Linked DNA regions of Homo sapiens: regions 1, 2, 4 and 5 are each linked to region 3. Evidence: fine-mapped expression QTL. A gene starts in region 3. Each other region holds a variant in brackets. All regions are shown on one strand. Distances are between the middles of the regions.

Evidence for each region.
Region 1: its variant is fine-mapped to the expression of CCDC50 in whole blood (INTERVAL, PIP 0.97).
Region 2: its variant is fine-mapped to the expression of CCDC50 in whole blood (TOPMed, PIP above 0.99).
Region 4: its variant is fine-mapped to the expression of CCDC50 in whole blood (TOPMed, PIP above 0.99).
Region 5: its variant is fine-mapped to the expression of CCDC50 in whole blood (INTERVAL, PIP 0.96).

The regions. Positions count from the first base shown.
Region 1 is chr3:191,379,581-191,384,686 of GRCh38, reverse strand. It overlaps CCDC50 (coiled-coil domain containing 50), which reads right to left. Exons shown (of 12, transcript NM_178335.3): 7 at 4,413-4,528; 8 at 3,956-4,000; 9 at 3,755-3,859; 10 at 1,862-1,941. Among named protein-coding and RNA genes, the nearest start is that of PYDC2-AS1, 43 kb to the left of the region's middle. The variant G/A (reference allele first, on the strand shown) is at 2,562.
Region 2 is chr3:191,256,932-191,262,037 of GRCh38, reverse strand. The region is part of intron 4 of OSTN (osteocrin); the gene reads right to left. Among named protein-coding and RNA genes, the nearest start is that of OSTN-AS1, 25 kb to the right of the region's middle. The variant C/T (reference allele first, on the strand shown) is at 2,713.
Region 3 is chr3:191,327,224-191,332,329 of GRCh38, reverse strand. It overlaps CCDC50 (coiled-coil domain containing 50), which reads right to left and starts at 2,936. Exons shown (of 12, transcript NM_178335.3): 1 at 2,607-2,936. The coding sequence starts at 2,655. It overlaps UTS2B (urotensin 2B), which reads left to right and starts at 1,804. Exons shown (of 9, transcript NM_198152.5): 1 at 1,804-1,916; 2 at 3,621-3,699. RefSeq lists enhancers at 2,167-2,767, 2,768-3,369 and silencers at 2,781-3,060, 3,161-3,240.
Region 4 is chr3:191,287,102-191,292,207 of GRCh38, reverse strand. The region is part of intron 4 of UTS2B (urotensin 2B); the gene reads left to right. Among named protein-coding and RNA genes, the nearest start is that of CCDC50, 40 kb to the left of the region's middle. The variant G/A (reference allele first, on the strand shown) is at 2,750.
Region 5 is chr3:191,297,915-191,303,020 of GRCh38, reverse strand. The region is part of intron 4 of UTS2B (urotensin 2B); the gene reads left to right. Among named protein-coding and RNA genes, the nearest start is that of CCDC50, 29 kb to the left of the region's middle. RefSeq lists enhancers at 561-1,086, 3,363-3,422, 3,433-3,612. The variant A/G (reference allele first, on the strand shown) is at 2,649.

The DNA.
Region 1 (5,106 bases), 52 kb before region 3:
AAAATAAAAATGGCAATTTTTGAAAAATAACAACAAAAGTTAAACACACATACACGAAGAGTAGAAAATTCTGTAACAGACAAAGAAATTGGATTTCTAACCATAAGTATTACAAGCTCTACATAAGAATTTGTGTCTCACTACTACTATTACTACACTTCAGTAATAAACATCTTGACCTAGGAAGTGCCATGTTTTTCAATCCTTGAAACCAAATATTTCTGTATAGCTAAACTTTTCCATCATGATTAAATGTGAAAGAGGAAAACCAGATTCTAACCAGAAAGTATACATTCTGATATTAGTTGTGCAAGGTATCTACATATGCAAGATATATAAGCTTTATCTTTTAACTATGAAAATACAGGTTTCATAAAATTCCTCATTTTTTTGGTCATATATACAATCCTGCTAAAATGACATTTAAAGACAAATGTTCCTCTAAGGTAAAAACAAAAATTTCTATTCTACTAGCCCTAAGTCACTTTTCATTCATTTATAATAGCCATTTTTAATACAGGATCATTTGATTATTCACTCTTTCAGTATGCCAAATATTTCTAAAGTATCTATTATATTCCAAAAACTTGTTTTCAGACTTTAATAAACTTTCTTAAGAAATCATCCAGTACTGTTCCATCATATATGCTGTCAATGGTATTAGTATTCTAAAGAGGCCAAGGATCTGAAGACTGCAGAATTAAGCCTAAAGATGATTTAAATTCATTTGACTAAAAAAAGGATAATAATCCAGATGTATTTACTTACTAAGAACAGATTAGCTGCTGCTTCTTTTACTTGGATACTTTGGGAATGTACTAACCTATAGAGTTCTAAGAAAATGTTTGGCATGTGCTTAACCAAAAGCTACAACAGAAAGATTTTATATAACTAGACAGAATATGCCACTATTCTTCTCAGAGCAATACAAACCCAATGTAATTTTCTGAAAGATTATCTTCTGAAAGCAAATGAGTTTTAAAATAGAGGATTACTTTTTAAGGACACTAAATACATTCACTTGAAGGAAACAAGTCTAGGAGCTTCAGTGTGGGCATGAGTAGCAACAACAGTGTCAATTATTCAATGAAATAAGCGTTATGTTTCAAGAATTAACAAATAAGAATAAAATTCAAATTTGAATAATTCAGAGTTTTCAAAATTTTAAACTTAGTGTTACTTTTTTGTCTTGTTTTTAGTATCTTTTTCTTCACATTCCAATCATGTTTTCTTTCGAAAGGCAACAAAAAGCAATTAAAAAAAAAAAGAGGTTACTTCCCCAGAGACTTAAATGTTGACAACTTGAGGCAGAAAGACAGCAGCTGCTCCATAACTATTATGCACGACTGTTTGAGATAAATCAGAAAGTATGTACACCATAGCCACAGCTATTTGTTGAGTGGGATTTAGACAGTCTGCAAGGATTCAAGATTTTGTCAAGGACACTGAGACTCAGAAAGAAATGAGTTTGAGCATGTGCAAATGGCATGCACACATCAGTGTGGCTATGAAACCCGGTAAATATTTAAAACTCGAAATTTTATTTAGGAAAAAAAATCACTCTCATTCCCCAAGCTGAAAGCATAAATTCAGTGAATGCAGAGGTAAGAATCAGTCCTAACAAAAAGTACATTCTTCCTTATCCACCCCAACTATTGTAAAATTCTGATTTGATGTACACAACTCAATTTAAGAGTGGAAATAAAGTTCTAAAAATAACCCTGAATGTCTTGACACTACCTTACAAATGCAGATTTTTGGATCTCCTCTCCAAAAAACATACACTCTTCTTAGGGAACTGAAATCTCCTTATTCACCCCAAAGTCAACTTCCTCATTTTTCTTTTCAGGTGTCAGCTTACCGTGCTGGCCTTTCATTCTTAGAATGGTGAGGTTCATCACTCTCTTTTGACTTGGAATTTGCTGCTTTAGCTGTTTTTGGCTATGGACAAAAATACAAACAAACAAACAAAAATAACACACACATACAATCCAGAATCATCAAACAAAGGGAAAGATTAAGTTTAACGTATGTTTATCATGCCAAGCTCTTCCTTAGTAATTTCAGATTAATTATATTTAATTGAGGAACATAAAATATTTTTATATATGGCCACTCCAGAGGTAGAAAATTTATAGCTGCAAAGGTAGGCTTTGGGCTTACATGGAAGGTGTAATTTAGCCCACTCATCTGAAAGCCTTAGAGCAGCCAGAGGAATGGGCTGAACACACAGGAACATGCTTCCCTAGATGGGTGTGCTTGGCCACTGATTATTAACATAATAGCTACACAGTAATTGCCAAGAACCAGTGCACGCCCAGAGTCTACGGAATCCAGGTTTGTGCACTCAAACTTATTTCCGCACACATGTCTTAGGCTGATTTCCAGCCAGTAAACTAAGGCACATTCAAGTCAACTTTTCCAAGAGAGGAACTGTATCAGTACCAGTTATAAAATAAAAATTACAGAAGTCATGATGATACCTGCTAGAGATGTGGCCATTGCCTTCTGACACGCTTGATTCCTAATCCTTAAATACTTACCCTTTCCTAGTTAAGGTA[G/A]CAAAGAATCTGAGAAACTCCTGGGTAATTATTTGTGGCTTAATTTATTTAACAAAAGTATTTGGGAATCCTTGACTAAAACAGTATATTAGAAAAAATCTTGAATTACTGAGTTAGTTAAGAGAGAGCTAAATATACATAATTAATATGAGAATAATACATTCATTGTTTTGAGACTAACTCGTGGGTAACTGAGCAACAGGAAAGAGTACAGCAATACTATTAGCAGGGTTTCTACACCTTTTTCCTCACAACCATTACTGAGACTGTGAGGTGGGACCAGAAACCCAATGGAGGAATTTGTTCAAGAGAGACCAGCGCTAAACACCAACTGTGTAAGGAATACACAACCTAGGTTTCATTCTTCTGGGCCTAAACTCCCTCCCTAAAAACCCTGTATTGTACGAATTCTCTCCCTATTCCTCTGCTCTTTTTCCACCTAGCTTAACCTTCTATTTGTTAGCTGTCTACACTTTGTCTTCCTCTCTACATTATACACTACTATCAGGAAAAATGTCTTTGTCTTTCCATGGAGGTCCAAAGTGTTGTCTTACGCGCTGTCACTGATGAATAAAGTCTGCTAAGCTGGAACTCACAATTACCGCAGCAAAATGAATTGCAGTAACTGCTTATTTTGTCTACAATTTCTGATCAACGAGGGGAAAGATAACCGTCCAAACTCACGCTAGATAGGTCTTGCACTGTGACATAAATAATAATTGTTGGTGATAAGTATGTATCTTTCAGTCTGCCACAAACCATGTTACATCAAAGGAAAGAGAAACGGATACATGATAGAGATGAAAGATAATGTAAGCACAAAGAAAGTAGAGACGGGAAGAGAAGTTCATTGTGGAAAATATGAAAGCATGTGAAAATGCTATATTCTTCTATAATCAAAGTACTGTATATGAAAACTAAGACTGTTCATGACCAGAAGCACTTGCATTTCACTCCGTCTTAAAGGGAACAGAATGAGTTTTCAATCTTAGCAGTAACTTTTTACATATGTTCCAAAATTCAGTGATTTTTCATGGTGATGGAATCTTCACAGATCAGATTCACATATGCAATACAGATAATTTATATATTCATATATCCTAAATATATTTGCAGAGCTTAACTCAAAAGCAGAGTCCCCTTTTCATTTCTAATTTTATTTCTAATTAGAAAACAAACAAAACACACTCTACCTTCCACTCGGGGTCTTGCTTTCTTTTGTCCAAAGATGATTTCTCCCGCTCCTTGGCTTTTTTGTAAGCTTTCTTTTCTTCAGCCATTAGAAGTCGAGCGATTTCCTAAACAAAATACAGTCAATATCATTAACTGCAGAGGTGCAGATAGAAATATACTAGGATATTTCCAAAGAATATCAGCTAAACTCATTAACTTACTTCATCTTGAGCTACTTGAGCGGCTCTCATGTCCACCTGGGTAGCCTATGATATCGAAAATACAAAAACAAAGAATTTAATTGGAATCTATGTTGTGCATTTTCAGTATCTTGTACAAAATAAGCTGGTTTTTGAAAATAATTGTGACTCATGTTCCTGAGGTTGATAATCAGTTGGTATGCTTTCACCAGCCAGAGCAGGAGCTCTTTTTATCAAATCCTACAGCAGGGTTATGGAGAACAATCATGGAGATGGAGAAATGGAGTTATGGACTTTGCTGCTAATGCTTACTCACTAAGCAAAAGTGGATACTCTATTCCTATTGTCATGATTTTTCCACTCATAAAAAAAGGTTTCTCAATTGATAGAGGACTATTAATATAATTTCAAGATGGACTAGATTCACAAAAAAAATACCCATCAATATATCTAAACTTTTGCCTTAAAATTTGCTCACCAAAAGTTCTTCTTCTTGCAGTTTTCTGGCAATTTCAGCATCATACCATTCCTGATCCCTGTGGGCCATTCGTGATGGAGTAGATACAGCTTCTTTCATCACTCTTGGCTTCATTCCTTTAAAAAAAAAAAAAAACTCAATGTAATAAAACAACCGAGGATGTTTTCTGAAAAGTTAAGAAATTTAAGATAAAGGAGATTTTTCTTTAGTAGCTAACAATGACAATACTACCTCTACTCCAGAATACAGTGTGGGGTGCATTAAAAATATTTTTGCCCTAGGAATGGAAGTGGCAATGTAGATAATGCATACATTTAAACAAAGATATCTAAGCAAGCCTGCCTGGTAAAAAGTCCCCTCTCACATAGTTTCTGCAACAGCAGAAATTTATGTAAGAAGTTGCAAGTGAGGCCCTGGAAAAATACAAAGTGAAAAAAAAGTCATTGAAAACAAAAATAATTTAAAGAAAAGCAAATTACAGAGTCAGAGTTTAAAAGAGGCTAAGCTGTCAAGGCTGGAGGAGAGTAGAGGCTTCTTTCTATTTATCTCAGCCTGCATACTTACTACTTCCGAGGGAGCAGGAACAGCAGCACCTGGCAGTCATGTGATAATACCTGTGAGACAAGCAGTGGTCCTGCCATGGCTTTTCCTCTGAGAGTAAATAAACCCACTCGCTTTAGAACTTCCCCACAGC
Region 2 (5,106 bases), 70 kb after region 3:
ACCATGTTCGCCGGGCGGGTCTCAAACTCCTGACCTCAGGTGATCCACCCGCCTCGGTCTCCCAAAGTGCTGGGATTACAGGCATGAGCCACCGCACCCGGCCAATAGTCACATTTCTAATTTTATCAGGTTGACATTCTGATTTCAATGGCACAGACCTAGAACTTGCTAATTTCATCTAGAAAAGCTAGGAACATTTAGACAAAATACTTCTTTGAATTTGAGTTGCTTAGAGCTAAAGCCTACTAAAAACTCAAAACTTTGGTACAATATATTAATGATTTCAGAAAGCCATTGCATAAATAGCAAATTATCGTCCTTTCAAAAATACGTATCAGGGAAGAAATTAGTGTTTGGTCTGGTAACTAGTGATGGAAATCAAAATATTTTACCCAAAATATACTTCCTTGACATATTTTGAAGTGGCTCCATAAAGCTGTTTTTTTGTGGGGGGATTTGCATTCATGCAGCCAGCCCTCCTCTTGTCTAGATCTAGGGAAGATTAACTGAGAGTCTAATGCTTTCAGAGGTCTGAAAAGAAACATTTGCCATCTATTCTCTCTGAGGGCTGCTGGGTTTTATCTACATAACAAGACTACCTTTGCTAGCCAAGCCTCTTTCTCTCTCCCATAACCTCTCTTGTCACTAAAACCTGTTTTTGGCCATGCTCTGAGCCTGCATTCTTTCTGTAACCTCAAGATAATATACAATTTTTTGAACACCATTAGTAGATTGGGTCCTTCATTCTGAAGGCTCCCCTGTATACACATTAAATAAATTTGTATCCTCTTCTCCTTTTAATCTTACATCTGCCGCATGTCAGTGATTTTCGGCAAACCTTCAGAGGGGCAAAGGTTAAAGTTAGCCCTTGGCACCTTCAGTTGGGTGCAGTGAGCAGCGAGATTAAAATTTCACCCCGCTGGAAGTCACAGTTACGAGAACCCAAGACCTAATCTGCTGGCAAAAAGAGTAAGAATTTCTTACCAGAAAAGCTCCTGGCCTCTATCTCTCTCTCTCTGTAATCTGATCAGGTGAATGGTAAAAATCACTCTTTCCTCTGCACAATTTTGATTAATGCGAGACAAAGATTTATGTGACTTAACTTGGGGTATAGTATCTCTGGTGTACTTTTTGGTACTTTGTGTATGAATATTCATATTGTTTGATCTCTTTCCTCCCAGAAACAGTCTTTTTCTTTGTCTCTGTCTTTCTGTGTTGTTCATAAAGAGGGATACCAAATAAAGTTCCCTCTTGTTCAGTTTTATGTCCTGGAGAGCTTGACATCTGACTAAGTGGGAGCAGTCTTTCCTGGTCTCCATCACCCGAAGGGCATGGTTGTTGGATCACATCAGGTGGCCATCCTAAAAATGCCTGGGAACCCAAGACTTTTTTTGTTACTAATCTCCCAAGCTCGGGGGCGGGGGTTTGTCATAAGAAGTCCTGTCCATAAGGAGCTTTTGTTTTCTCAGCCGTTGTTGCCTGGTTAATGCCGGGAAAGTCCAATCCCAGGAGGGGACACCTGGTGTCACAGATTACTGGCACCCCCCTCACAACTGTGACTGGCACCCCCCTCAGAAATTTGTGGGTTCCTTAATATCTGTGGCAACAAGAGTCTTTTGCTCTCTTAGCCTGTTTCCGGGAGTGAGATTTTTGGTGGGGGAATCTTTGGCATTGTTTTTGTCTATGCCCTAAAATTACATTCTGGCTTTACAGGAAGAGGCTTTTGGATTGAGTTGTTACTGGAATAAGTACACCACTGGAAACCCTAATTGTCGGTGGCCAGAAGACGGATCCTTTAAGTTAGACTAAAATTCCTAAATTAAAAAAAAAAAATTAGAGATATCTTACACCAAACAATTGATGCGAAGATTAAATTAAAAGGATACACAGGCTGGGCACTGTGGCTCTCCCCTGTAATCCCAGCACTTTGGGAGGGTGAGGTGGCGGATCATGAGGTCAAGAGATCGAGACCATCCTGGCCTACATGGTGAAACCCCATCTCTACTAAAAATACAAAAGTTAGCCGGGCATGGTGTGTGCCTGTAGTCCCAGCTACCCCGGAGGCTGAGGCAGGAGAATCACTTGAACCGGGGAGGTGGAGGTTGCAGTAAGTCGAGATTGTACCACTGCGCTCCAGCCTGGTGACAGAGTGAGACTCTGTCTCAAGAAAAAAAAAAAAAAAAAAGAAGGATACATAATAGGGTCATAGCTAGCTTTCAAAATTCTCTTGACTAAATTAAAGGGCAAAAATTTGACCTAAAACATTTAAAATCCTTTGTAAGAGATTGCCTGAGGGAATAACAATAAAAGCCATCCTGCCTTGTGGTCTAATAGTTAAAAGTCCATGCTTTCAGCATCAACGCCTGGCTTTGATACCCAGTCAGGGGGCCCTGTTGGTTTGACATCTGTGTGACTTTTGACTTTTTGGAGGTGGTCATTTATTTCTTTGGAGACACCTCATACATCCTTGGTTAAGTCAGAACCTTGGTTAAGGCTTATTAATTTTACCAGGGAGTGTATTTTGGTTAAAAAAAAAAATCCAGGCAAGGTGGCTCACGCCTGTAATCCCAGCACTTCGGGAGGCCAAGGCGGGTGGATCATGATGTCACGAGTTCGAGGCCAGCCTGGTCAATATGGTGAAACCCTGTCTCTACTAAAAATACAAAAATTAGCTGGGGGCTACAAAAAGTAGCCAGGGGGCGTAGCTCCTGG[C/T]TACTCGGGAGGCTGAGGCAGAAGAATTTCTTGGATCTGGGAGGCGGAGGTTGCAGTGAGCTGAGACGGTGCTACTGCATTCCAGTCTGGGCGACAAAGCAAGAGTCTGTCTCAAAAAAAAAAAACAGATTGTTTTCCCGTTTACTTTCACTTCTCCCTGCTTCTCCTTCCTCTTTGCCATTTTTGGTACCACAGGAAAAGGTCTAGAAAAGACTTCTAACAGCTCACACTCCTTAAGGGACTCAGAAGAAGGTAACTCAGAGTACTCTTACTCCTTTCTGGGAGTCTTCTTTCCTTGCAGTTTTAAGCGTCGTAGGCAACCTCCTGTGAGGTCTAAAACTCTGCTCTCTTTTGTATTGTGTTACCTGATCACTTTGGCTTTTGACCAGAAATTATTTGGTATTATGAGAGACTTGACCTTAGTGTATGTAATGGCTAGGCAAGAGTAACAGTGTTAGACATGGCCAACTATAGTTGTTTCCAATAAATGCTTGTTACTACAGGGGGCTACTCATTTGCACATTAGATGAACAACGGTGCGGTTTAAACACCCAGAAAAATGTATTTGCGGCAAAGTGACCAAAGTGTGTGGCCTGGTTTCCATGGTGCTTTCCTCTTTTGGGGGTACCTGGGATTCAGTGAAAGCCTTGATTTTTTTTTTTTTTTAATTATACTTTAAGTCCTGGAATACATGTGCAGAACGTGCAGGCTTGTTACATAGCTATACATGTGCCCTGGTGATTTGCTGCACCCATCAACCCGTCATCTAGGTTTTAAACCCCGCGTGCATTTGGTGTTTCTCTTAATGCTATCCCTCCCCTTGCCTCCTACGCCCCGACAGGCCCTGGTATGTGATGTTCCCCTCCCTGTGTCCATGTGTTCTCATTGTTCAACTCTCAGAAACCCTTGCTTTTTAAACATCTAAATGCTTTGCCTTTTAACTGCATCCACTTTTTTCATATTTAAATTATTAGGCCCTATAAACTAAAAATACTTTGTTAGCCTTGTTCCTTAATGAGTTCTGTCCTGACCTCAGTGGTCCACTTGAAAAACACAGACTGAATTAAAAGCTACCTATCTAAATGAGATTGCTCTCCTTATGCAATCTTACGGTTAATTCCTAAGGAATCTTGGCATTCATTTTTAATCTTCCTTTGACTACTCAAGCTTCTTGAAAAATCAAATTCTCTCTGTGCTTTGAGATATAAATTTGCTACCTGTTTTCTCTGAAACTCAGAAGGGGTACTCCAGATAAGCCTTAAATTTTTCCATTTACAAAGGCATAGTTTCAATCTGTCTTTTTAGACTAGTGAGTTTTACCTGTCTTATGGCTAAAATTCTAAAATCAAAACAATAAAGTCTTCATGTGCAGATGTGTATGCTATACCTTGTGTCTCTCTATACATACATGTATATGTATATATGTATTTATAGCTATACATGTTTAATATTGTCTACACATGGTACCACATTAATTTAAAAATAAATGAGTACTCATAAATTAAGACCAAATGCTTTTCAAGTTCATGTGATTTTAGCAATCTTTGAGAAATAAAGATAGTTTTAAAATTATTGGTAAAATAATATTAAAATGTCTTCAAAATTTTAATGTAGACATTTTTGTCTGAGTCTATTGATCAGGCAGGTTTATGGCCAAAAAATTGTTGCTTGATATTTTTGATACTTGATTAATTTGTTTCCGAGTCTGTGTATCTTGATTACAGCCTTTCGATTCAGAGGTCTAGACAGATGCCCATGATGAGGGTGGGGGATAACACCTGGTCCATCTTTCCTATCCCAGTTATGCCTCCCCTGCTGGGAGATTAGATTCTCTCCTATCCCAGTTATGCCTCCCCTGCTGGGAGATGCTGTGAGAAATTAGATTCTCCAGGCATTGTCTTTTGTCCTGGGCTCTGCATCTGATATGTAATTAAAATTACCTACTTCCTAGATTTTTTACTAAAATAAAAGTTACTAATTATTAACACTATAATAACTATATGTAGTCAAAACTACTAGATATAAGAGAAAAAATATGCAAAGTGTGTAAGGAAGTAGAGTATGTTTTTGGTAAGAAGGATTATAAAAAGGCATGTAAATTTGTGTGTCTATGGTCTTTTTTTTTTTTTTTTTTTTTTTTGAGAGAGGGTTTTGCTCTGTCACCCAGGCTGGAGTGCAGTGGTGTGATCATGGCTCGTTGCAGCCTTGACCTCTCAGGATCAAGTGATCCTTCCAACTCAGCCTCCCAAGTAGCTGGGACTACAGGCTTGCACCACAATGCTTGACTAATTTAAAAAAACTTTTTTGTACAGATGGGGTGCCCCTTTGTTGCCAAGGCTCGTTTCAAATTTCTGGGCTCAAAGTGGTCCTCTTGCCTTGGCCTCCAAAAGTGCT
Region 3 (5,106 bases):
TATAAATACTACCATAGGTGTATGTGTGTGTGTTTTTTCAAAAGGTCTGTCCAAATGATGAATATTTTTGACTTCCTTAAAAACTAAGTAAGCAAGCATTAGATTTCAACCTAGGAAAGAAGATTTTTAAATATCCCCTTACCCTAATGTCAGCTGCTACCCACGACCTCTATTGAAATGTTCACGACAAAAGGTCACAGGGTGCCCCATCCCCTCCTAAACAGCAATGGAAACGGGCACACACTCACTGCACTATTCTTCTTAATCTCTATTGGAATCTACCCCATGATACCAAATTGAATATAAATTGTAACTGCATATATATCTATCAAAAGTTTAAATTAAAAAGTAGAGGAGACAGATACAGGGATTTTTTTGAATGGGGTTCAAAAATCTGCATCAGAATATTAAACTAATTACTACTACTAACCCTTCTCAAATGAAGTTGGAGTTTCAATATTACCACAGTCTCAATGTTTGCACATGTTTTACCCTATCAGGGGCACAAGCTTCATTCTCTTTAATTAGGATAAAGACACTGTTAGGGAGTAACTGGGCCATAATTAAGAGTTATATTAGGGAAGGATACACTTTATTAGACTTGAATACTTCTCAGATCAAAAACTTCACCACCATTAGTAGGACATTCCTAGTATAATACATCACTTCCTTTGATGATCTTGGAACTAGAAAAGTCAGATGTTTACAAAGACAGTGATCTCATCGATTCCTGACCACCTTCAAAATTAATATTTAATTGTAACTTAATGAAAGAGCCACACTGAATTTTCTTACCAATTTACCAGATTACATAAAAGAGATTGCCAAACACCGTATTACGCAAAATGAAAGCTAATTTAAATGTATTAGACTCTAGAGTGTGGAAATGGAAAAATCTTGCATTTTTATATGGAAGGTGTTTGTGGAACTCCTTGAGAAATAATATGTTAGAATACATCATTCATGTCTTGGTACGAAATCAGAAGACCTAAGGGTAATATAAATGTATATGAAGAGTTTTATGTTTTTTCACTCACATGAATAGGGGATTGGATAAAATCATAGCACCATATGATTAATACTATACATACCAGGTTTTGTTTGAACTCCAATTCTCATTCTACTCACCATGCACTACACACTGCACAAGGATCACTCTTTCTCTAGAGACAAACCCAACACATACCCACACAAAAAACCCTCATATCCAAAAGTAAAGGATAACCAGACAATCTCTAAGATAAGAACTCTCAAAAGTATGGATCCGCCTTTCCTATCGCTCAGCCTCCTTAGTCTTGACAGCAGAGTGAAAACTGTTTTCTACAGGTGAAAGCCCTAAGTCTTCATCAAAGCCATACCAGGGACGGAAAGGTAGAAAAGTATTAACGCTAAAATCTCACGCCTAAGCTTTAACACCCTTCCGGAACAGTAAGACAGAACTAGGCCCATCAGAAATTCTACATAAAATCAGTGACCACTAGTCACTAGTCTCCTAGTGCTTGAAACTCTGAGAAAGCAATCAAGCAGTCCCTCATTTTCCTGAGATTTTTGGGCTGGCCTGAGCACACACAAGACCAACGGAGTCAAATTAAGTTGGCAATAAAACAAGCGGTTCCAAGAAAGCAAAAACTATTTTCAATTCCACATCTCCAAGACGCCTCAGGCTACAGTATTCAATCGATACAAATGACATTCACAACAGAAGCCGATTTTGCAAAGCCCTTGGAACTTAGGGGTCTGCGTCAGCACTCTGGAACGTCTATGCTTCCTAGGACCAAAGAATAAACAAAGATAACTCAAGGCATAAGGCGATCCAGCACCTAAGATCTCAGCAAAAAAAAGCTAGGTCCTGAGGCAGCTAGTGGAAAAACAAGAGAAGGGAAGTCAAAAGGCTACTTGCTGTCAGCTAAAGCCAGGTCAGTACTAATCTCTACTTTCCTGGACATTGGTACAAAAAGCAATGACAAGGCCATCAGTCCCCTGTTCCCCTCGCTCACTATTGTGTGTGTGTGTGTGTGTGTGTGTGTGTGTGTTTTGTTTGTAAGAAAATGCTTATAGTGGCTTCCCGCCCGCGCAGAACACAGCCAAGACTAAACTTTTAAACCTTGAGGAAGGTGGGAAAGTCAGCCAGCCAGACGCCGGCCTAGGAAAAGTAGGGAGAGAAGGAGGGAAAGAGTCATGTTTCAAAACAAAGGCTCCACACGGAACTGAATGTCAACCCCTCTCCACTTCCCAGCCTTCAAGCCAGCCAGGCTGGGCCTCGATTTTTTAGAAGCGGAGTAAGTCAGATTCACCCGGCTCTCAGCGTCCACTGAGGCTTTGCGATGCACGAGAACACGGGCACAGCCACCTACTTGCTGGGGCTGCTGCTAGCCCCCCCCCCCCCCAACCACCCCCTTGAGAAAAAACGGGCTTGGAACGTCGGAGACTTGCCCAACGTCCCACACTAGAACCTGAATTCAATTCCTTTCACGTCCGGGCAAGGCCAACGCAGGGCGGGCACCGGGCGAGGGCCGCGGGAGCCGAAATGGCAACGCCCCTGACCTGAGAGAACCTCGGGCTGGGAGAGGGGAGGGTCCCGCGCGCTCTCCCTCCGGGGCCCTTACCTTCCTTGACTCCAGGCAGCTTGGACTGGTCGATGCTGACTTCAGCCATACCGGGCCAGGGTCCCGGTTGCCCCTTTAACGCGGGCTTCCCGGTCACCGCCGGCGCCGAGCGGGGCCCCGAGCGCAGCAGCAGCGCCGGACGCGGCGCAAAGTCCGGCCGGCAGGGCTCGCAGGCCGGAGAACGGAGCGGGTCGGGCGGGCAGGGGCTGGTGACCAAAGCAGCGGGAGACGGTCCCCGAGGCACCAAGCTGGCGGCCCAGCTGCCCCGCCGCGGCCACCTGCTCCGCGTCCCCGGCCCCAATCGATACCAAATATCCGGAGCCCGGAAATGGACCGGGGCCGTCCAGTACGGAGGGAGAGAGGAGACAGAAAGGCGGGCGGGCCGGCTGGGGGAGGGGGAGCTGCAGGTCTGTAACCGCAATTGCGAGTGGCTGGCGAGCGAAGATCAGCGCCCGCTGCCGCCTCGCTGTTGTCTCCTTTGTGCTCAGTGACGCGCCGCCTGAGGCTGGGGCCCCGCTGTGCTCCCGCCCCCGGGCCCTGCCCCCCTCCTACGGGAGGGTCGCGTCTTTAGGTGGGGGCCTTGTATCCTAAAGGCCTCAACAAAAAGGCCACACGGGTCACCTAAAACATAGTCTTTCCCGTGAGCGGTGTAGTCAGCATTCTGTGGTCTGGTTCTGGGATTGAGATTAACACAGGATGTTTACTGCATGCTTGCCTCTCTCTCATACACTCTTTTTGCACCCGGAATTAGAGGAGAGATGGTAGATGGCCATAAAAACCCCAAATACAACGTACAGAATGAAGAGCAGCTGATAAAATTCTGGGCCAGTTTGGAGTAGAGTGTGTACACAATCAGCTGGGAGAACTGAGTCATTCATTCATCAAAATCGCATGAATGTGTCTACCAAGTGTGATGTTAGGTACTGTGGGTGATAACGAGGCGTCAGACTTATCTCTGTTATAGCGCTGCACACATTGGATTGTAATTGTGACATTTCTATCTCTCTAAAATAGACAACCTCTCCTGTTTCATCTCCTGGCAACAGAATGCATCCTCCTTTTGGGAAACTGCCTCTTTCCCCACTCCTCAGAGGTGAGCTTCTCTCCCAAACGTGTGCCATGTCTGAACCTCGAGACTACCCCATCACTCTTCCCCCTTCCTCCACCGACATGGGTTCATCGAAGGGTGGCTGGGTGACCAAGACAGGTCAAACAGAATACTTTCCTGGGTACATAAAGAGTTACATATTCTGTTTCTTGTGGAAAAGATCTGCCTCTAGGAGATGATGAGGCCAAACTGAAGACAGAAGCAAAGAGAAGAGAAAGGGAGATGAAGAGGGCATGTTCTGATGTTACCACAGTAGCAAAGCAGGATATCCCCAGAGCAGCTGGCATTTCAGCAACTCCTGGATTCTGGGATCTACAACCCGCAAACTCTCAACTTATCCTCAGTTTTGCTTAAGCTAGTAATAGTTGATTTTCTGTCACTCACAGCTCAGAGTCCCAGTATGAGAGGCCACGTAGGGGAGGTTTTATTTGAACTTGACATTGAAAAGTAGGTGGATTTTAGGCTAGCAAAAATTTAGAAGACTTTCAAGGCCAGAGGGTAGCAAAGTATAGCCCACAGGCCAAATCTACGCCACTGAATTTGAATGACTGTTTTTTATATGTTCAAATAATTACATTTCAAATCACTACATAAATAGGACATAATATTTTCGACCTTGCCTCTTAAGCCTCAAAGTCTAAAATATGCTTTACAGGAAAAGTTTACCCACCCCAGTGCTAGGCAGAGATAACACTCAGCAGGTTAAATGTGGGAATAAGAAGGAAGTGGTATTAGAAAGGTAGATTTATGGGAATTTTTTAATTGTCCTGTAATCTAGTAATTTTTTTTAACTTCCTGTGGTCTAGAGAATATTTATAACAGCAGTATTTTCTGTTTCCCTCCCCAAATCTATCGTTTCTACTTCTCTACCAAGCCGTGCCTTTGGATGCCTACAGATAAATCACTAGGCCCCTTTGACCTGTGGCTTCCTGTTGTGATTGACCAATGGGAAGCACTGGCAGAAAATCAAAAGAAGGGAGGAGAGAAATATCAGAGTATTCTTCTTTCCTTTAACCCAAAATTTTGGCCACAGTCCTGTCCCTCTATGACTACAGGGCCTGTGTAGAGGCCTCTTTTCCATGGCCTCAGCTCTCATGGGTCTCTAATAAAACAATTTGTTTCCAGTGTCCCTTCAGGCCTAGAGTGTGATGGCTTCCCCTAGTTCCTTTTGGCTCACTGCAACTTCTGCCTCCCAGGTTCCAGTGATTCTCGTGCCTCAGCCTCCCGAGTAGCTGGGATTACAGGTGTGCACCACAACGCCTGGCTAATCTTTTGTATTTTTAGTAGAGGCAGGGTTTTGGCATGTTGGCCAGGCTGGTCTGGAACTCCTGGCCTCAAGTGATCCGCCCACCTCGGCCTCCCAAAGTGCTGGGATTACAGGCACGAGCCACC
Region 4 (5,106 bases), 40 kb after region 3:
ATGGAAAAATTCTCCAAATTAATTCACAAATTTAGTGCAACCTCTACCAAAATCTTAGCTTCCCTCCTGCAACCTCTTTTTTTTTTTTCAGAAATTGGCAAGCTGATCCTACAATGTATATGGAAATGCAAGGGATACAGAGAAATCAAAACAGCTTTTCACAATAGACCATTAGAAGTCTCACACTTTCCAATTTCAAGGCTTACTACAAAGCTACATTAATAAACAATATTTTACTTGTATAAGAATGGACAAATTGGTCAATGGAATAAAATTTATAGTTCAGAAATAAAACCATACATCTATGACAAGCTACCAAGACCATTCATGGGGGAAAGAATTATCTTCTAAACAAATGTGGTGAGACAACTAGATATCCACATGCGAAAATAAATAAATAAATAAAGGTGAAACCCAACCTCACACCATATATAAAACTTTACTTAAAGTAGATCAGGCCGGGCGCGGTGGCTCACGCATGTAATCCCAGCACTTTGAGAGGCTGAGGTGGGTGGATCACGAGGTCAGGAGATGGAGGCCATCTTGGTGAACGTGGTGAAACCTTGTCTCCACTAAAAATACAAATAATTGGCCAGGTGTGGTGGTGGGCGCCTGTAGTCCCAGCTACTCAGGAGGCTGAGGCAGGAGAATGGCATGAACCCAGGTGGTGGAGCTTGCAGTGAGCCGAGATGGCGCCACTGCACTCCAGCCTGGGTGACAGAGTGAGACTCTGTCTCAAAAAAAAAGAAAGTGGTTCAAAGACCTAAATTTTAGAGTTTCACTATAGAACTCTTAGATAATAATATAGGCATAAATCTTTGTGACTTTCAAGTAGCTAATAGTTTCTTATAGTACTCAAAAACAAGAAACACAAGAAAAAATAGATACATTGGACTTTTTTCAAATAAAACCCTTTGTTCTTCAAAAGACATGATCAAGAAAGTGAAACTACCCTCAGATTGTGAAAAAATGTTTTCAAATTATGTATCTGATAAGGAACTAGAATCCAGAATACAATGAACTCTTACAACTTAACAATAAAAATACTCAATTTTTAAAAAGGGCCAAGTATTTGAACAGATGTTTCTACTTTATTTCAACAAATTCAGGCCATTGTTAACTCTTTTAAATGAAAAAAAGAACTCCAAGCACCGTCTTGTCAGGATGTCAGAAACTCTACTTTTGCTTCCTTCCTTCCGCTATTTTTTTCATTTAACTACATGTAAGGAATTCTACCAAGAATTAATAGTCAGAGAGAAGTAAAAATAAAATTGTTCAATTTTCTTACTACAAAAAAAGTAATAAGGCCAAGAGCTTACTGGAGTCTGAAAGTAATTATTCAAATCAGTTTGAGTCACCATACAAACACTTATCTGTGCTTTTCTTGTCACTCATCGTGAGAAATAGTCAGATGCAAGTGAATCTTAAAGCTATCTGTTCCCTGTAAATTATAACTTGACGAAGCCTTCATTGACAAAATGGAAATGCCATTTATATCCTGTAATTGATACATAGACTGAGTTATTAAAGTATTGCTATTGAAAATACAAAGTTCAAATGTTTCTAAGTTTTCTTTAAAATGGGGGTCTCTGTTATTGGAGCAATCATTTTCTATCTCTGTGTTTCCCCAATTGTGATATGTGGGCAAGAGATCATGTGGGTTAAGCATGTAGCTCTGCGTTGGGTAGATCTGGGTTTCACTTTTGGTTCCAAAACTGTCTTCTTTTACTGTAAAAGATGAAAAATTATAGTTGTGCAATTGTTGAGGGATTGCTATGGAAATTAAATGAGGTACTATTTGTGAGGTGCTTAGTACAGGGCCTGGCATGTGATGATTGCTCAATAAATGGCAACAATAATATTGCTATATACTATAAATGTGTATAACAAGAACTCCTCAAACAAATATTCTAACTTCATTTATCCATCCAATACAATCGATAGTAAACATCTGCTTTTATTTGAATGATTTGGTTATGCACTCATGACAAGAATTTAGTATTTTATTAAGGAGAGAGAGAGATAAAAGATTTAATTAAAGATCTTTGCAGACTTTTCCCCAAAGTGGATGGAAATGGTCATGAAACAGGGACTTCTTTGTCTATGTCTCTTTTTAAAAATCAATTCATTAAAAATTTGACAAAATTCTGTACATCTATTGTGTACAACATGATGTATTGAAATATGTATACATTATGTTATGACTAAATTGAAGAAATTAGCATATGATTCCTTCACATACAACATTTTTGTGTGGTGAGAACACTTAAAATTTACTTCTTTAGTGATTTTCAACAATAAAATACATTGTTATTAATGATATCACTAGGCTGTACAGATTTCTGAAACTTAACTTCTGCTATCTAACTGATATTTTGTGTCTTTTAAACATCTCTTACACATTCTCCCTTCCCCACAACCCAAGCTCCTGGTAACTACCATTTTCCTCTCTGCTTCTAATAGTTCACATTTTCTTAGATTCCACATAAAAGTGAAATTATGACAAATAAAAATATTTGTCCTTCTGTGTCTGTTTTATTTTATTGAACATAATATCCTTCAAGCTTATATATTTTATCACAAATGAGAGGATTTTCTTCTTTTAAATGACTGAAGACATTTCAATTGTGCATATATACCACATTTTCTTTACGTTTTCATCCCATCATAGACATAGCTTGATTCAATATCACGGCCATTGGGAATAATGCCGTGATGAATATGTTAGAGCACTGAACATATTAATTTC[G/A]TTTGTTTTTTATTTATTTATTTATTTATTTATTTATTTATTTATTTATTGAGATGGAGTCTTGGTCTGTTGCCCAGGCCGGAGTGCAGTGGCGCAATCTCCACTCACTGCAAGCTCTGTCTCCCAGGTTTACGCCATTCTCCTGCCTCAGCCTCCCGAGCACCTGGGCCTACAGGCGCCTGCCACCATGCCTGGCTAATTTTTTATATTTTTAGTAGAGATGGGGTTTCACCATGTTAGCCAGGATGGTCTCGATCTCCTGACTTCGTGATCCACCCACCTCGGTCTCCCAAAGTGCTGGGATTACAGGCGTGAGCCACTGCGCCTGGCTGATTTCTTTTAGATATATAAACAGTAGTGGGAATGCTGGATCATCTGGTAGTTCTATTTTTAATTTTTTGAGGACTCTCCATAAGGTCTTTTGCTTATTTTAAAGCTGAGCTGTTTTCTTGATATTGATTTGTTTGAGTTTCTTAGATATTTTGGATACTAACTTCTGTGCAAAAACTGTTTAGTTTGATGTAATCTCGTTTGTTTTTGCTTTTGTTGCTGGTGCTTTGGAATCGTATCTCAAAAAATCATTGCTCAAATCAATGTCACGAAGCTTTTCAGCTGTGTTTTTTTGCAGGAGTTTTATAGAGTCCAGTCTTAAGTCTTTAATCTACTTTGAGTTGATTTTTGCATATAGTGTGGGATAAAGTAGTAAATAGTGATATACAGCTTCAATGCAATCTCTCTTAAAAATTCCCATAAAATTTTGTACAGAAATAGAAAAAAGTAGTTTTTTTTTTACAGTAGATTTACAGTATCAGGCCTTAAGTCTTTAATCTACTTTGAGTTGATTTTTGCATATAGCGTGGAATAAGGGTCTACTTCTATTCTTTTGAATGTGAATATTCAGTTTTTTTGACACCACTTATTGAAAAGACTCTCCTTTCCCTGTGGTATGTTCTTGGCATCTTTGTTGAAAATCAATTGATCTTCAGTGGGATTTACTTCTGGGATTTCTATACTATTCCATTTGTCTATTTATCTGTTGTTATGCCAGTGGCATGCTCTTTAGATAATGATAGTATTGTAGTATATTGTAGTAATGTAGTGTATGTGATGCCTCCAGCGTTTTTCTGCCCAAAATTGCTTTGGCTATTTGGGATCTTCTGTAGTTCCATACAAATTTTAGGATTGCTTTTATTTCTATTTCTGTACAAAATGTTATTGGAATTTTAAAAGAGATTGCGGTGAAGCTATACATCACTTTTGGTAGTATGTACATTTTAACAATATTAATTATTCTAATTCATGAAAGCAGGCTATCTTTCCATTTGCTTGTGTCTTTCATCAATGTTTTGTTGTTGTCAGTATACAGGTCTTTTACCTTATTTGATAAATGTATTCCTAATAATTTTTTGAGGGGATATCCATTGCAAATGACATTCTTGATTTCATTTTTGGGTAGGTCATTGTCAGTATATACAGAGGCCAGTGATTTTTGAACATAGATTTTGTATCCTGCAACTTTAATGAACTCACATAGTATTTCTAAATTACTGGATGGAATCTTTAGGGTTTTCTATATACATGATTAAGCTGTCTGCAACAGGGACAATTTAACTTCTTCCTTTCCTATATGGATGTCTTTCCTTTCTTTCTTTTTTTCTAATTGTTCTGGATACCTTTTCTTTCTTTCTTTTTTTCTGATTGTTTTGGCTAGGACTTCGAGTACAATGTTGCGTAGTAATGGTGAGAGTGGGCATACTTATTTTGTTTCTGATCCTAGAAGGAAAGGTTTCAACTTTTTACCTTTGAATATAATGTTAGCTATGGGTTTTTCATATAGGGGCTTTATTGTGCCGAGGTACATTCATTCCATACTTAATATGTTGAGAGTTTTTATCATGAAAGTTTTTATCATATACATTTTATCATGTTTTTTCTGCATCTGTTGAAATTATTGTATAGTTTTGTTCTTCGTTCGATTAATTCGGTGGATCACATTTATTCATTTGTGTATGTAAAACATCCTTGTATCCCTAGGATAAATCACACTTGATCATAGTGAATGATCATTTTAACGTGTTGTTGATCTTGGTTTGTTAGTATTTTGCTGAGGATTTTTGTGTCAATGTTTGTTAGGGATATTGGCTTGTAGCTTTCTGTTCTTGTAATGTCTTTATCTGGCTTTGGTATCAGAGTAATCCTGGCCTCATAAGTTTGGAAGTATTATTTCTTCTTAAATTTTTTGGAAGAGTGTGACAATGATTTGTATTAGTTATTTAAATGTTTGGTTGAATTCAGCAATGAAGCTATCAGATTTTTTCTGGGCTTTTCTTTGATGGGAGACTTTTTATTACCAATCC
Region 5 (5,106 bases), 29 kb after region 3:
TTTTCTCCTTTCCTGTTAGTTAATCTTCGCTATTTGATGATATTATTGTAAGGAGGGGCCTCATGACAATTGCATTCCTTTCACAGGAACTTTCTTTAGTGAGTTAAGGGAACTTTAGAGAGAGCCTCTTCATGCCTGCTTTGGGAGGGAAAGAGGAGCAAGAGACTAGGGGAACAGAGAAGGTCAGAGAGGCCTTGTTTCTCCTTTAGTTCAAAGCACTCAGCGTAACAAAAGTGCCATATTCTGGGGCATAATTTTTCTGAGTCCCAACAGTTTCTACAACCTTTGCCTTCCAGAGAATCCTTTCTTCTCAATCTCCATGTCTTAGCAAAGCAAACAGTAGTGCCAATAAATCTGAGTTTATGTTGTTATAGTAGTTAATGGACTTAACGAACAGCTCAGCTAAACAATCATATACAGGCAGGAGGTATAAATTATACAGGTGTCACAGGTTGAAACCTAGAATTGAGTTTCAGCCTGGGAGGCCACATGGGTCCATGGCTTTGCCCAGGAAGGAATTCAAGAGTGAGCCAACAGAATTAAGTGAAAGCAAATTTGTTAAGAAAATAAAGGAATACAAGTATGGCTACTCCATAGGCTGAGCAGCCCTGAGGGCTGCTGGTTGGCTGTGTTTATGGTTATTTCTTAATCATATGCTAAACAAGGGGTGGATTTTTCATGAGTTTCCTTGGAAAGGGGTGGGAAATTAGAGGAACTGAGGGTTTCTCCTCCTTTAAGACTACACAGGGTAACTTTCAGAGGTTGCCATGGCATTTGTAAACTGTCATGATGCTGGCGGGAGTGTCTTTTAGTGTGCTAATACATTACAATTAGCTTACAATGGGCAGTGAGGATGGCCGGAGGTGACTTTCAGCGCAATCTTGAATTTGGTGGGTTTTGGCCTGCTTTTCGATTGCATCCTATTTTATCAGGTCAGTGTCTGCATGACCTGCATCTTGTGCTGACCTTCTATCTCATCCTGTGACTAAGAATGCCTAACCCCCTGGGATTGCAGCCCAGCAGACCTCAACCTAATTTTACCCAGCCCCTATTCAAGATGATGTCACTCTGTTTCAAATGCCTCTGACACAAGCAGGATAAAAACTCCATAAATATTGACTCCATCTAACAGATTCTGTCAGAGGAAGAAATCTCATTTTGATAATGACATCTTTCTAGAGCACTGCTCTTTGAATAGGGTTTCCATAGATGTATTAATATTACCAAAAATTGGCCGGGCGTGGTGGCTCACGCCTGTAATCCCAGCACTTTGGGAGGCCGAGGCGGGCGGATCACAAGGTCAGGAGATCGAGACCATCCTGGCTAACTCGGTGAAACCCCGTCTCTACTAAAAATACAAAAAAAAATTAGCCGGGCATGGTGGCGGGCGCCTGTGGTCCCAGCTACTCGGGAGGTTGAGGCAGGAGAATGGTGTGAACCCAGGCGGCGGAGCTTGCAGCAAGCCGAGATCACACCACTGCACTCCAGCCTGGGCGACAGAGCGAGACTCCATCTCAAAAAAAAAAAAAAAAAAAAATTACCAAAAATTTAGTTAATAAAACAAATACCAATTGTTCAGTATCTAACTTCATCTATAACTCAATGTTTTGATAACATTGAAGAATCTTCACAGTTCTCAACACTCTTGTGGTGAGAAACTCAGTGAAACTTGTGGAAGACAAGGTAGTGGCACTGTGACTCAATGAAGACTGAGCAAAATGGCATTTTGCAAAGCCAGGGATGTCTGAACTACTGTATTTTTTTCCATTCAAATCTTTAGGGCACCAGCTAGAATGAGACAAATTTTCTTTTCTAGTTTCACTAAAGCTTATGCAAATTCTTGAATCTGTTTCACCACCCGGAAAGACAGCTAAAATCCACCTAAAGAGGAACAGGCTGGGTTAGTCAAGGAAAGAAGGTGACATATTTTGGTTAGGGCAGTAAGTCACTTTCATAAATAAAGAAGAAAAAGTGATAAAATGGAATGCACACAAAAATAGATTTATGGAGGAAAAAGAGTAACCATACCAAGAATATTAGTTTTTTCTCAAACTGCTATAAATAAATACCTGAGAATGAGTAATTTGTTTTAAAAAGAGGTTTACTTATTGTATGGTTTTGCAGATTGTAAAGAAAACATAGAGCTTCTGGGGAGGCCTCAGAAATCTTACAATTATACCTGAAGGCAAACATAAAGCAGGCACATCTTACATGGCCAGAGCAAGAGCAAGAGAGAGAGGGGGCAGTTGCCACACACTTTTAAACAACCAGATGTCATGAGAACAGCCCCAAAGGGGGAATTCTACCTCCATGATCCAATCACCTCCCACCAGGCCCCACCTTCAACACTGGAGATGACAATTTGATGTGACATTTGGGTGAGGGCACAGAACCAAACCATGTCATTCTGCCTCTGGCTCCTCCCACGTTTCACATCCTTCTCACATTGCAATACAGCCATCCCTTCTCAGCAGTCCCCCAAGTCTTAACTCATTCCAGGATTCACTCAAAAGTTAGTCCAAAGTCTCATCTGAGACAAAGCTAGTGCCTTCTGCCTATGAGCCTGTAAAACTAAAAACAAGTTAGTTATTTCCAAGATACAATGGATTTACTGGCATTGGGTAAATACTCCCATTCCAAAAGGGATA[A/G]ATTGGCCAAAAGAAAGGGGCTACAGGCCAGGCACGGTGGCTCACACCTGTAATCCCAGCACTTTGGGAGGCTGAGGTGGGCGGATCATGAGGTCAGCAGTTTGAGACCAGCCTGGCCAACATGGTGAAACCCCATGTCTACTAAAAATACAAAAATTAGCCAGGCATGGTGGTGGGCGCCTGTAATCCCAGCCACTCGGGAGGCTGAGCTGGGAGAATCGCTTGAACCAGGAGGCAGTGGTTGCAGCGTGCCGAGATTGCACCACCGCACTCCAGCCTGGGTGAAAGAGCGAAAACTCCGTGTCAAAGAAAAAATGTATATATGTGTATATATAAAAAAAAATGTTAAAAAAAGAAAAGAAAGGGGCTACAGGCACCATGCAAGTCTGAAAGCCAATGGGGCAGTCATTAAATCTTAGAGCTCCAAAATAATCTCCTTTGACTCCATGTCTCCTATCCAGGGCACATTGATGCAAGGAGTGGGTTCCCAAGGTCTTGGGCAGCTCCACCCCTGTGACTTTGCAGGGTTCAGCCCCCGTGGCTGCTCTCAAGGGCTGGTGTTGATTTCTTGTGGCTCTTCCAGGTGCAGGGCACAAGTTGTTGGTGTATCTACAATTCTGGTGTTTGGAGGATGGTGGCCTTCTTCTCCCAGCTCCATTAGGCAATGCCCCAGTGGGGACTCTGTGTGGGGGTTCCACCCCCACACTTCCCCTCTGCACTGCTTTAGTAGAGGTTCTCCATGAGGGCTCAGCTACTGCAGCAGGCTTTTGCCTGGACATCCAGGCTTTGCCGTACATCTCTAAAATCTAGGTGGAGGCTCTCAAGCCCCAACTCTTGCACTCTGTGCACCCACAGGTTTAACACCACATGGAAGCTGCCAAGGCTCATGGCTTGCACTCCCTGAAGCAGCAGCCTGAGCTGTATCTGGGGTCCTTTTAGACGTGGCTGGAGCTGAAGCAACTGAGCTGTGAAGAGCAGTGTCCAGAGGCTGCAAAGGGTATTGGGGCCCTTGCCCTGGCCCACAAAACCATCCTTCCGTCCTAGACCTCTGGGCATATGATGGGAGGGACTGCCCCTAAAGGTCTCTGTAATGCCTTGGAGGCCTTTTTCTTACTGTCTTGGCTATTAGCATTTGCCTACCTTTTATTTATGCAAATTCCTGTAACTGCCTTAAAATTCTACCCAGAAAATGGAGTTTTCTTTTCTACTATATGGCTGAGCTGCAAATTTTCCAAACTTTTATGCTCTGCTTCCCTTTTAAATGTAAGTTCAAATTTCAGATCACTTCTTTGCTCCTGCATAGGAGCATATGTTGTTGTTAGAAGCAGCTTGGCTACATCTTGGATGCTTTACTGCTTAGAAATCTCTTCTGCCACCCTAAATCATCACTATCAATTTCAAAGTTCCACAGATCCCTAGAGCAGGGGCATAATGCATTCAATCTCTTTGTTAACAAATAACAAAAGTGACCTTTGCTCCAGTTCCAAATAAGTTCCTCATTTCCATCTGAGACCCCCTTTATCCTGGACTTCACTGTCGATATCATTATCAAGATTTTGGTTATTACCATTCAACAAGTCTCTATGAAGTGCCAAGTTTTCCCTCATCTTCCTATTTTCTTCTGAGCCCTCCACACTCTTCCAACCTCTTGTTACCCAGTTCCAAAGCTGCTTCCACATTTTCAGGTATCTTTATAACAGTGCTCCACTCCTTGGTACCAATTTTCTGTATTAGTCCATTCTCACAATGCTATAAAGAAACATCTGAGACAGGGTAATTTATAAAGAAATGAGGTTTAACTGGCTCACAGTTCTGAAGGCTTTACAGAAAGCATAATGGCTCTGGGGAGGCCTCAGGAAACACAATCATTCCTGAAGGCAAAGGGAAAGCAAGCACATCTTACATGGCCAGAGCAGGAGGAACAGAGAGAATGGTGAGGTGCCACACACTTTTAAACAACCAGATCTCATGAGAAATCACCCACTGTCATGAGAACAGCAGGGGGGAAATCTACCCCATGATCCAAACACCTCCCACCAGAATCCACTTCCAATATTGGGGATTACAATTTGACATAAAATTTGGGCAGGGGCAAAAATCCAAACTGTATCTCCAAGTTAAAGCAGTGACTGTTTTTTTTGGAATTCAATGTATACATTTTTCACAAGGTTATTGTGGGTCTATTATTGTGCTAGGTACGACATTGGGTGTTAAATGTATAAGAATCTTGGCTTACCTTTTTTCCCTAAAAAATAAAAAGATGAATATATATGCTACAACTAGGCAACAGTTGATGATAAGAAAGGATTCATCAAAATATTGCCACAGAGTGTTCAAAGGGAAAGGATCTCAGATGTAATTAGCCTAAACATCTTACATGTTAGAGACAGAAGCCCAGCGCTTGGAATTCTCAGTGTTATATGACAGAAGTAGAAAGTGTTATTTATTTTCTAAAGCA